Linked DNA regions of Homo sapiens: all the other regions are reported to be linked to region 1. The links are microRNA targets in miRTarBase. Many come from high-throughput screens and were not tested one by one. Region 1 holds a microRNA gene; each other region holds the end of a gene's coding sequence.

The links. The annotated mature microRNA hsa-miR-4789-5p reads GUAUACACCUGAUAUGUGUAUG and lies in region 1 at 1,904-1,925, opposite strand. An mRNA with a match to its seed (bases 2 to 7 or 8) in the 3' UTR can be bound and repressed. Matches are read on the target gene's strand: a 7mer-m8 pairs with bases 2 to 8, a 7mer-A1 pairs with bases 2 to 7 and ends in A, and an 8mer does both.
Region 2: the mRNA of SPCS2 is a reported target of hsa-miR-4789-5p. Seed matches in the 3' UTR shown: 7mer-m8 at 2,899-2,905 and 8mer at 1,416-1,423.
Region 3: miRTarBase lists SIK3 as a target of hsa-miR-4789-5p. Seed matches in the 3' UTR shown: 7mer-m8 at 1,606-1,612 and 7mer-m8 at 1,582-1,588.

The regions. Positions count from the first base shown.
Region 1 is chr3:175,367,324-175,371,476 of GRCh38, reverse strand. MIR4789 (microRNA 4789) reads right to left here and starts at 1,937; the gene lies at 1,856-1,937. All of the region lies in intron 5 of NAALADL2 (N-acetylated alpha-linked acidic dipeptidase like 2), which reads right to left.
Region 2 is chr11:74,976,416-74,980,415 of GRCh38, reverse strand. SPCS2 (signal peptidase complex subunit 2) reads right to left here. Exons shown (of 5, transcript NM_014752.3): 5 at 1,383-3,559. The coding sequence ends at 3,373. Among named protein-coding and RNA genes, the nearest start is that of NEU3, 11 kb to the left of the region's middle.
Region 3 is chr11:116,843,084-116,847,083 of GRCh38, forward strand. It overlaps SIK3 (SIK family kinase 3), which reads right to left. Exons shown (of 25, transcript NM_001366686.3): 24 at 3,300-3,470; 25 at 319-2,546. The coding sequence ends at 3,313. It also overlaps APOA1-AS. Among named protein-coding and RNA genes, the nearest start is that of APOA1, 7.5 kb to the left of the region's middle.

The sequences.
Region 1 (4,153 bases):
ACTAACACGGTGAAACCCCATCTCTACTAAAAATCCAAAAAATTAGCCGGGCGCGGTGGCGGGCGCCTGTAATCCCAGCTACTCAGGAGGCTGAGGCAGGAGAACGGCGAGAACCCGGGGGGCGGAGCTTGCAGTGAGCCGAGATAGCGCCACTGCAGTCCGGCCTGGGCGAAAGAGCGAGTACTCCGTCTCAAAAAATAATAATAATAATAATATCATCCATAATATTAGTTGATAGTCTCTTCATAATTCTAAATCCAGCATTTTTCAAAGCATTACCAATGAAGGAGAACTTTTAAGATGAAGCTAAATATAAAAAAAAAGTGAATTACTGCAAATTACTATACATAGTATAATTTGAAATTTTGGTAATATTGTCTAAGACAAATCATCCTTTTGGGATAGTTTTTTTCCATACTGTTCAAACTACCCTTCATCCTATAACGGCAGACATGGCCTAATGATTCTCATTTTTAATCAACAGTGTTGTCAGACATTTCAATGATTCTGAACATAATGTTATGACATTCAGGGCCAGAGAGCAAGCATTCTCTACTTGCTCTCAGCTGAAAGCAAAGAGGTTCTCAAGAGCTGCCAGCCTTTCTCCTTTATGCTCTGAAAGCCTCCTAAACTTGTCAGTTTACTTCCATTACCCTTTTATTGAAAACAATGAAAGAAAAAAAGTTACTACGGTGTTTATACTTTTAAAGTGAATGTCTTTTGTAATAAGGTAGAAATATCACAGAACCATCGAATGTTGGAATCAGAAGCATGTTTGGCATATCATCAAGTACAATAGCCACATCCTGCCTATGTGGAAAGCTGGAGGGGCTAAAGGACCTCTCAAAGCTACACATGTAGAGTCAGCAGCAGAGCAGAGCTTAAAGCAGCAAGTGACTCTTACGGCCATCAGTAATCACACTCTTGCTTAACATGCAAATGAATAAAGCTATTTTTATAAAATCCCTCCCCCCCCCATATATTGGCAGTAACTCTAAATTCTAGTCATTTTTTAACCATTACAGAATAAGATTAGAAGCATCAGTAGTTAATGGTGATAATAATTTCCATTTTATATGGGGTTTTATGGTTCACAAATATATTTTATAAAATAAGTTTCTAACATTTCATTTTCTTATATTGAGGGCTTTTAAAAGAAATAACCAAAACCTATTTTATTAAAATTTGATATTTAAAATTATAGTTGAGAATAGTGGAAGATTTTTCCCATTATCTTTGCTCTCCTGGATAGCAACCAGATAAATGACTTCCCAGAGAAATGCATAGAGTCATATAAGATAAAACGTCTTTTTTTCTCCATTTTACTCAGAGTTTGATGATGAACTATGACTGGATATTGAAATAATCATTCTTTTATCCTTTGTAGTAAGGCTTACTTTGTCCAGTGGCAACATGATCAGACAAGCAGCTCTCAGATGACATGTGACAATATTAAATTCAATCTTAGCAAGCAGCTTCTCAATTTCACACTTGTGGTAGCTGGATTAACCCAATTATTTTTTGGAGGTTAAGGGAAACTTTCACATTTGCAGAATACCATCCTTCAGAAACCGGAATGTAGGATTTTGTTATCTCAAAGAATTTTATGGAGATGGAAAGATCAGTTAGTATTAAATTTTAGCACACAATCAGATGAAGGGTTTAGGAAGAAGTAGATATGATTACCTAATAATTCACTTTGAGTTCTTCACTTTGAGCCTCAAAAATGTGTGAAACTTGGGACTTTTACTAAGCATATCTTTCAGGCAAAATATTTTCATTGTACCAGTTCCAAGCTCTTGGTTCTAACACAAAACCCCTGCTACACATACACACACATGCACTCACACACACACAGGCTACCTATATATACACCTGCTATGTGTGTGGATATGTATTTACACATACACATATCAGGTGTATACATACGTAGCATGTATATATACACATACACACACACGCACACAGGCACACACATACTTGTTACCTATATATGTATACATGCACATATCAGGTGTATGTAAATGTAACATGTATATGTACACACACGCACACAGGCACACACATACTTGTTACCTATATATGTATACATGCACATATCAGGTGTATGTAAATGTAACATGTATATGTACACACACGCACACAGGCACACACATACTTGTTACATATATAATTACACATGCACATATCAGGTGTATGTAAATGTAACATTTATATATACACACGCGCACACAGGCACACACATACTTGCTACATATATATACAGTCAGGTGCTGCATGATGACATTTTGCTCAAGAACAAATCACATACATGAGGGTGGTTCCATAGATTATAGTGGAGCTGAAAAACTCTAGTGGCATTGTTCTCATTGTGACATTAGTGCAATTACTTAATTTTTAAAACAAATTTAGTGTAACCTAAGTGTACAGTGTTTATAAAGCCTACAGTAATGCATAGTAACGTCTTAGGCCTTCACATTTGCTCACTGCTCATTCACAGATCCACCCAGAGCAACTTCTACTCCCACAAGTTCCATGAAAAGTGCCCTATACAGGGGTGGCAATTTTTTTTAATCTTTTATATCATATTTCGCTGTACCTTTTCTGTGTTTAGATATGTTTAGATATACAAATACCACTGCATTGTAATTGCCTACAGTGTTCAGTACAATAACATGCTATGCAGGTTTGTAGCTTAGAAGTAATAAGCTATACGACATAACCTAGTTGTTTAGGAGGCTACACAATGTGTTTGTGTTATGTGCACTCTATGATGTTCTCTCAACAATGAAGTCACCTAATGATGCATTTCTCAGAAAGCATCTCCATTATTAAATGGCACATGAACGTATTTGCTACATATATACATACTGGCTATAAACACACACACACACACACACACACTCACACACACCTGCTACAGTCCTTTCAAAGTATAAAAAAAGATACCAAAATGTGTTAGAGATTCGTTTGTAAAATGTAACTATTTTCGGACCAGATGGATTCACAGCCGAATTCTACCAGAGGTACAAGGAGGAACTGGTACCATTCCTTCTGAAACTATTCCAATCAATAGAAAAAGAGGGAAACCTCCCTAACTCATTTTATGAGGCCAGCATCATCCTGATACCAAAGCCAGGCAGAGACACAACCAAAAAAGAGAATTTTAGACCAATATCCTTGATGAACATTGATGCAAAAATCCTCAATAAAATACTGGCAACCCGAATCCAGCAGCACATCAAAAAGCTTATCCACCATGATCAAGTGGGCTTCATCCCTGGGATGCAAGGCTGGTTCAATATACGCAAATCAATAAATGTAATCCAGCGTATAAACAGAACCAAAGACAAAAACCACATGATTATCTCAATAGATGCAGAAAAGGCCTTTGACAAAATTCAACAACGCTTCATGCTAAAAACTCTCAATAAATTAGGTATTGATGGGATGTATCTCAAAATAATAAGAGCTATCTATGACAAACCCACAGCCAATATCATAATGAATGGGCAAAAACTGGAAGCATTCCCTTTGAAAACTGGCACAAGACAGGGATGCCCTCTCTCACCTCTCCTATTCAACATAGTGTTGGAAGTTCTGGCCAGGGCAATCAGGCAGGAGAAGGAAATAAAGGGTATTCAGTTAGGAAAAGAGGAAGTCAAACTGTCCCTGTTTGCAGACAACATGATTGTACATCTAGAAAACCCCATTGTCTCAGCCCAAAATCTCCTTAAGCTGATAAGCAACTTCAGCAAAGTTTCAGGATACAAAATCCATGTACAAAAATCACAAGCATTCTTATACACCAATAACAGACAGAGAGCCAAATCATGAGTGAACTCCCATTCACAATTGCTTCAAAGAGAATAAAATACTTAGGAATCCAACTTACAAGGGACGTGGAGGACCTCTTCAAGGAGAACTACAAACCACTGCTCAAGGAAATAAAAGAGGACACAAACAAATGGAAGAACATTCCATGCTCATGGGTAGGAAGAATCAGTATCGTGAAAATGGCCGTATTGCCCCAGGTAATTTATAGATTCAATGCCATCCCCATCAAGCTACCAATGACTTTCTTCACAGAATCGGAAACAACTCTTTAAAGTTCATATGGAAGCAAAAAAGAGCCCGCATCGCCAAGTCAATC
Region 2 (4,000 bases), not on the chromosome of region 1:
GTGTGTATGCAAAGGGACTTTGCATCTTCTTCCATTCCCCGAAATTGTTCTGAAGCAAAGATTGTTTCTACACGTATATAAAAGCATGACAAACATTAAATACATATTAGCAGTTGAAATTTGCAAATAATGAAAAAACATTAGGATCTTTTTCCACTGTCCTCAGTGGCCCTCTATTTTCTAGAAAAAAGTCCGTCTGAGGTAAGTGTGAGGAACTGAGAACTTCACTCATGATGATGTGATGGGTGTCAGGGTTTCCTGGTGGCAAGGGTGTTGCAGACCTACTAGAGGGTACAGAGCAGCCCAGCAGCCTTCTGGACTGGGCTGAAATGGCCACTCAGTAGATGCATGTGTCAGAAGCTGGCCAGAGGCACTCTGCAGCTCTACAAAGTGTGCCCATGCTGAGGCTTGAGCCTGCAGAGGGTACTTTTTGTTCATGTGATGAGACACTCCTAAAATGCCACAAGTGCAAAGACAGGGGACCAACTGCAACATGTAGCTGGGCTGATAACCCACTTCTTCAACAAATCTAAACTGCTTCAACTGGTTTCTGGAGTCAGGGAAAAACCTTAAAATAGATCCATGTAGTCCAAGAAGTCTCCAGTGAGCCTTATAGGCAGATATTGGGGATATGGCACCCAACATTCTTTGTAATCATAAGGGATGTTTTTTATTTCCCAGGGAATAAGGAGTCTTCATAATCTCAAAATACATTCTCTAAAACTTTTTTTTTTTAACAAGAGACTTCACCCTAGAAAAGGAATAGGATGTATTCAAGGTCACAAATTAGAAAAAAGTTGCTAACAACCCAGGTTTCTTGTCTCTCATTTGAGGACCTATTTTCTTCCCCTCTCCTCAATCCATACTCCTTCCTGGAATAGTGAAAAAAACTGGGGAAAAATTATCATCAATAGGGTATTAAAGTAAAATCACTTATACTATGGAATATTATGTAGCTATTAAAAATGAGACTGACCTATGTGTATATATATATAGGGGTTATCACCCCAGCTACTTGTTGCAATTGGTCCCCTGCCTTTGCACTTCTGGTATTTTAGAACAGTTTCTTTTATATATATGTATGTCAGACTCTTTTTTTTTTCTTTTTTGAGACGGAGTTTTGCTCTTGTTGCCCAGGCTGGAGTGCAGGGTGTGATCTCGGCTCACTGCAACCTCCGCCTCCCAGTTCAAGCCATTCTCCTGCCTCAGCCTCCCAAGTAGCTGGGATTACAGGCATCTGCCACCATGCCCAGCCAATTTTTTGTATTTTTAGTAGAGATGTGGTTTCACCATGTTGGCCAAGGTGGTCTCGAACTCCTGACCTCAGGTGATTTACCTGTCTTGGTCTCCCAAAGTGCTAGGATTAAAGGCGTGAGCCACCATGCCTGGCCTCAGACTCATTTTTAATAGCTGCATTATACACACACACAGGGAAAATGCCTAAGATATATTAAGTTTAAAACACAAATTACAGGACATATATCAACATAATTCAATTTTTGTTAAAAAAAATGTATGTGGAGACACATGTTTGCATGCACATGTAAAGAAAAAGGCACAGTGGGGGAACTCTAAGGGATCATCATGGAGAGGGTTATTCAGTCTCTATCTGCAAGCCTCGAGACCCTTGTGTCTAACAGTACAGTTGGCCCTCTATATCTACAGATTTAACCAACCATGGATTAAAAATATATTTTAAAAAATAACAAAAAATATAAATTAAAAAACCAATGCAGTATAACTATTTACATAGCATTTACATTATATTAGGTATTATAGGTAATCCAGAGGTGATTAAAAGTATATGGGAGGATGTGTGTAGGTTATATGCAAATGCTATACCATTTTATATAAGGGACTTGAGCATCCTTGGATTTTGGTATGCTTGGGGATCCTGGAACCAATCTCCCACAAATACCAAGATGACTGTAACTCCTCCATTGTAAAAATACACTTATCCGGTTACATGCTTTCAAAAACTTTAAGAAGCTCACAGAGAATTCCGAAACTTACCCAAGGTTTACAGGAATGAAGAGTACAGAATCCAAGGCTTTAACTTTCTGTCCAGTGTTGTTCACAATTCCCTACCATGTGGTGCGAGATAGGACAACCTCTCCAAGACAAACAGGAAATGTGATAATGGTAATTTCTTACAAACTGAATATAGTGTTGGGTACTAGGCTCAGCCAAAATTGATGTTTTGTAAGGCTGTAGGGAAATATTCCTAAAGGTCAAAGGATCTTGGCAAGCACCCAGGTCTTCTCTGACCATACTGGGAAAATACTGGAAAAGCGGCTGTTTTGTCTCTGCAGGACCACAAACTCTGAAGCCGGACTCCCCAGGTTTGAATCCCAGTTCTATCACTAGCTGTGTGACAATTATTTAACTTTTGTATCTCAGTTTCCTCATGTGTAAAATGGGGATAATAACAGCACCTGCCTCTTAGGATTGCTGTGAGCATTATTAACACATGTAAAGTACTTGGAGCATTTCTGGCACAAAGTAAGTACAGAATGTTGTTATTATTGTTATTATCACTGGAAAGCTAAGAGTTCCTTAGCTACAGGTTCTCAGGGGCCTTTGACAAGTAAAATAGCCTAAAAATGAAAAAAACCTATAGTAGAAAGATGTTAACACTTGTTTCTCTGTTCTCTCCATCAAAACTATGACTCCATTTTTTTCACATCTTCCTTCCTTTTATTGAAAAAAATTTTAGAAAATGGCAGTTAATAAAAGGCACAAACAAATCAACAGGGATATACTAGTGGAAAACACAATATAAAACTAAAATGCCATTGGCTTCTTTAATTGGTTAAAAGCAAAAATGTAACAGGCAGAAAGTCTGTTTCAAACAAATTAAAAAGCTATGTGTTTTTTAAATTCTTCCCAAATCAGATATATACACACCCACAAAAATAGTGTGTGAAGGAAAGCTGTCATACACAAGAAGTTGTATCCTGAATTCTTCAAGGAAACACATATTGAAATAGGAATTAAGAGTCAGCAACAGATTAATAATTTTTTAAAATTGAGTCTTAAAATGCTACATGGCCCAAAGCTATACTATATAAAGTACTGCTAGGTACAAAAGAAAAAGTCTGTACAGCTTTTAGCAAAACTGCTTTCCCAGAAAAGCAAATTAAAATAATGCAATCAGCAGATCAAGGAGACTACAGCTAGACATCAGAGCTACAACTTCTCATATCTGTGTCAGAAAATCCTATTTACCCAGAATAGACTAAAATTTCAGGACAAAACAGGGACTTTTTAACATTTCTTACTTTACCCATTTTAAGTTCTTTTTATCTCCCCCACCCCCCAAGCCACTAATTCAGCAAGATCCAGGAGAAAGAGGGCTACTTTTAGAATTGGCTACTTTATTTTTCTTTCTATGGCAAGACTGTCATGGAGCCTGGATATTTCAGGCTCATATGCATCCATGACCAGTGTCCCACTGTGGTCAAAAAACTTAGCAATGGACTTTGTGAACTCGGCTTCCCGCTGCTGCTTTGTTCTCCCACTGATGAAGGTCAGCTTCAAGGTGTATTTGTCATCAAACCTAAGCATGGGGGCAAAGATAACAAATTAAAAACCAAACACAGAGATTCAACCAGTAACAATACGGCACCAAGTGTTTCCGAAGAAAAGGAGTAAGCTGGGCACGGTGATACAGGGAACAAACACATCCTTTAAAAGCAAAAGCAAAAACAAAACCCCAGGGCTCCTAACTTTTCAAGATACTAGTTCTGATTCTTAGGTGTTGACATATCTTTCCTACTTTAATTACTGTGTACCTCCTTTACCTTGTTGTAGACTTTTAAACCACGTGGACCATCTTCTCTCATCTCTGGACTTCGTATTTGCCATGCTAGACAGGTTTTCCTCGCAGACTCTTCTCCCCTATCTCACCTGAGAAGTTCTTATTTGTTAACACTATACTTGGGCATAAACTTTTCTGGGAAAGCCTACCAATCTGGGTCAGATGTGTTTCCTCTGTCTT
Region 3 (4,000 bases), not on the chromosome of region 1:
TCCCTTCTGACAGGGCAGAGTCCGAGCTGGGTGCCCAGGGACACAGTGTGAAGCAGAGTTCAGGCTTCTAGAGAATGCGAGTTTCTTAAGTCACTCAAAGCCCCACCCTTAGCCTGGGAGACCTCTCCAGCCTCCACTGCTCCAGCTCCCACCTACCTGAGGCTTCTTCCAACTAGACTCCAAACCACAGGCAAATAATCTATCAGCCTAAGAACACAATCAGGCTCCTATCTACACAACTTCCTGCTGTCCAACTAAGTAACCAAGTTGTAAGTAAGTGCCTCACAAAAGGAAGGACAAAAGGCAGGACAAAAGGTCTTAGCAACTTGAGTCTGGAGATTTTTTTTTTAATCCTTTTTAGTTCAACATAAAATGAGAAAGAAAAAAATATTTCTGACATTTTCAAAGAACAGAAATAGGAAAGTATGTTCATATACATTCAACGTATACTGCACATATTGGTTACTACAATACAAAGCAATGAGTTTTTTTTAAAGTGTAGTTTGCAAGATGGCACGGTTAGTAGGCTCACTGGCTTTCATCTGTTGTTGCTGGAGGGTGCAGTCTGCTCTCCCATACATACAGTACCATGTAAACACATCAGGCTGAGCGCGTGGTGGTGGTAGGGCAGGTTGGGGGCATAAGAGTTGGAACAAGCGCAGATAAGTCAACAGCTTTTTAGGGCTTTCTTGGTAAGCCCCCTTCTGGTGAGTAGTTGGTGACCCCACCAAGTGGAGGGGAGACTGGGGACCATGGAAACATGGGACAGCTCCCACGAAGGGCTCTTGCACTGCAGAATTCCACTCAAGGGATCTTGGGTCCAGGAGCCGAGCTGCCAGTATCAGTGGAGAAGGACAAGGTGCATGGGGATCCCGCCAGCAACATCAGGATGGCCATGCCGGGCACCCGCTTTCCTCTGTGCAAATTCAGGATGAAAGACTAGGAGGGGACTCGGGACCTCTTGCTCTCCTTTCCCAGAAAAAAAAAGGGTGGAAGAGTCAGTGTATTCAAGGTCTCTCTCTTGTTTTGAAGATCAGAAGGAGATAACCCAGACCCTCTCTCAGCCCCAGCCAGCAGAGAAGACTTTGGTTTCTAACAATGAAGAGAAATAAAGATAACACAAATAATAGCTACTGCGTATGCACTGCTTCAACTGGGGAAAGGAGACCACTGCATCTGTCACTGGCACAAGTAAGAGCTGTTCACAATTACAATGCCTAAAGGAAATACTTTGAACAAAAGGTGCAAGTCACAATTCAAATAGAACAGAATCTGGTTAAACATTTCTCATTTAAACAAAAATTCCTTTTCTCTTTATTTATTAATAATGATAATAACAATAATATCAACATTTACCAAAAACAATTTCTACATGATCAAGAATTAAAATATAGGGGCTGAGGGTACCCAGTGGGGAAGAGGAGGTTAGGAGAGAGGCAGGGCCCAAGGCAACCTCCTACACTTCTTCCCTGTGACAAAGAGGCTGAAAGAGGAGAGCATATATATATATATTTTATATATATATTATATATATAATATATATATAATATATTATATTATATATTATATATATAATATATATATACACATATATTATATTATATATATACACACATATATAATATATATATGGAGAAACAATCCTTTTTATAGCACAATATAAAATGAGAATGAAAGATGCCATAGAAAGCATAGTGCACTGCTGTTGGGTGTTCAGTCCATGGATAAAACCAGCAGGATGATAAAGGCAACCAACTTTCCAGGTTACAAGAGGGGAGCTGAGTTATCCACCAAAAGCAAAGGCTCAAATTGAGACATCCTAACTGGCAAACCATCTATGCCAGGTCATTCTCAGCCTCCGTGCCAAACTCTTCATATGATCTTGGCTAGGACAGACATGTTTTCCGTGGATCCCAGCAGTAAAGACCTCTCTGCGTTCCAGGCTTGGGGGTTTCTCTTTTTTTGTTCTTTTTGTTTTCTAAGTGCCAGAAGCCGTCACCCTTCCTCTCTCCCTTTGCCTGCCATTAGGATTCCAGAGGATGGCATCCTTTAGTATTTGCTTTCACAGAAGAGCAATGCAGGGGGATGGAGGGTGCTCTGCTGATGAAGGCTAGGGAGGGAGTGGCCCTGAGGCCGCTGGCCTCTGAACTCTAACTGCTTTGCTCTCCTGTTTCAAAAAAGGAACGAAAGAAAAAAAAGAAAGGAAGAAAAAAAAGAAAGTATATCACCTCTGGAAGAAAACATACCAAAAACAAAACAAAACACAAACCCCCAAACAAAACAAAAAACCACCAACTCAAATATACTTTCACAAAAGATGGAGAACATGGATTTCCTTCCTGTTTATTTCCTTGGTGACTTGGTCATACAAGCAAACATGGCAAAACCCTCTCAGAACCCAAAAGAACAGCACACGGATGAACCAAATGTGAGGAAAGCAGCTGTGATATTTTGGGTGGAGAGAAACACAAGGGCAATTTGGCACAACGCTGCTAGATACTGTGGGTTTACAATCAACCTTTTCATTCCCAAGCTGTACACAAAACCTGGAATAAAGCAGACACAGAGGAGAATTAGTTTGAAAAGAGAAAGGCTCAAATATTCCATTTAAAACCTTTTAAAAAATGCAACGGGTTTACTTTCCCTCAGGTGTTCAGGTAGCTTGCCATACTGAGGCTCTGATGTGGATTTGCCAAGTGGCTTCCCTTTCATCAGGCCTCTTCTGTCAAGGATTTTCCAGATACAACCAATGGTGCCTGCTGTGTACTCTTTGCATTACTCCAGCCAAACAAGCCAATTTCCCCATTCTTTCTACCATGGGCCTCTCATCACACATTTCCCTAATCTGGAATATCCTGCCACTTGCTTCTGTATGGCCTTAAAAAATATGGCTGGACATATTTTCCTGCCAGGTTTTGTCTTTTAGGACTGAGTTTAAGGACTTCCTCCTTTCCTCATTATGCTGACCGGAGGTCACCTGCATCCTCTGGAGCCGTAGCTCACTTCTGTCGCTATGAAGGCTAGAGCACCTGTAACACACGGCGAGTCTTGTGTCTTATTCCCATAACCGAACCAAGAGACTGTGTTTAGCATTTCTTCTGCACACCCCCACCCCTACCTCGCGCCCTAAAACTAGCAGCGTCGTTAATGAAAAGCAAGAAACTGTGAAGGCCACGAGGGGAGGCGTGGTACTGTCGACTGCACTGGCCACCACAACACATGGGCTGAAGCTCCTGATGGGATTGGGAGCAGGCACTGGGCCACAGGGCTGGTTTGGCTCTGGCCAGGGTGACACTCACTCTCTGTTTCTTGTTACACGCCTGCCTGCTCCATGCTGAAGGAGACTTCGGGGTGCTTGTAGCTGAGCAGAATGTCTGTAATACACGTAGATGGATAGCAAGAGGAGTTTAAATGCTGGCTGCCATCACTCAGGTCTGGGTGCTCATGACCTCCCAGGCTTGCCCCACATTCTGCAAGACCAAAAAGAACGTATGAGGTTGGCAGGGAACTGGGGGACTAGGAGAGCAAGGGGGAGAGAGAGGAGGAATTGAAGGCAACCTGTCGAGCATCCCACAGCCTGACTCCCAGCCCTGAATTCTAGCTCACAGCAGGCCCTCAAGGTGTTGAGTGACGATGGGCGGGGGCCAAGATTCTTCCTATATTCTCCTCTACCTGTTCTGCTTTTTTCCCTTTTCCTTTACCCTTTCCCATCCTTAGGTAAGATCAACTACTGTAGTGTGAGAGAAGATAGAGGACTCCTTCAGAAAGGATCACCTCTTAAAGAGTGAAAGGGAGAATAATTTTACTGCCTGCAGGCACCCATTCCTGGGCACTGTCTGTCTTCCAGACACTGTGCTAAGCACTTGATACTCACTAAGCCAGCCAGCCCTCAGGGCACAATGTAGGATAAAGGCTCTATCGTTTTTGCCACTTTACAGATGAGGATCTCGGGGTCCAGAAAGCCAAGTGCCTCACCTGCAGAGCCTGAAAAGGACAGCCT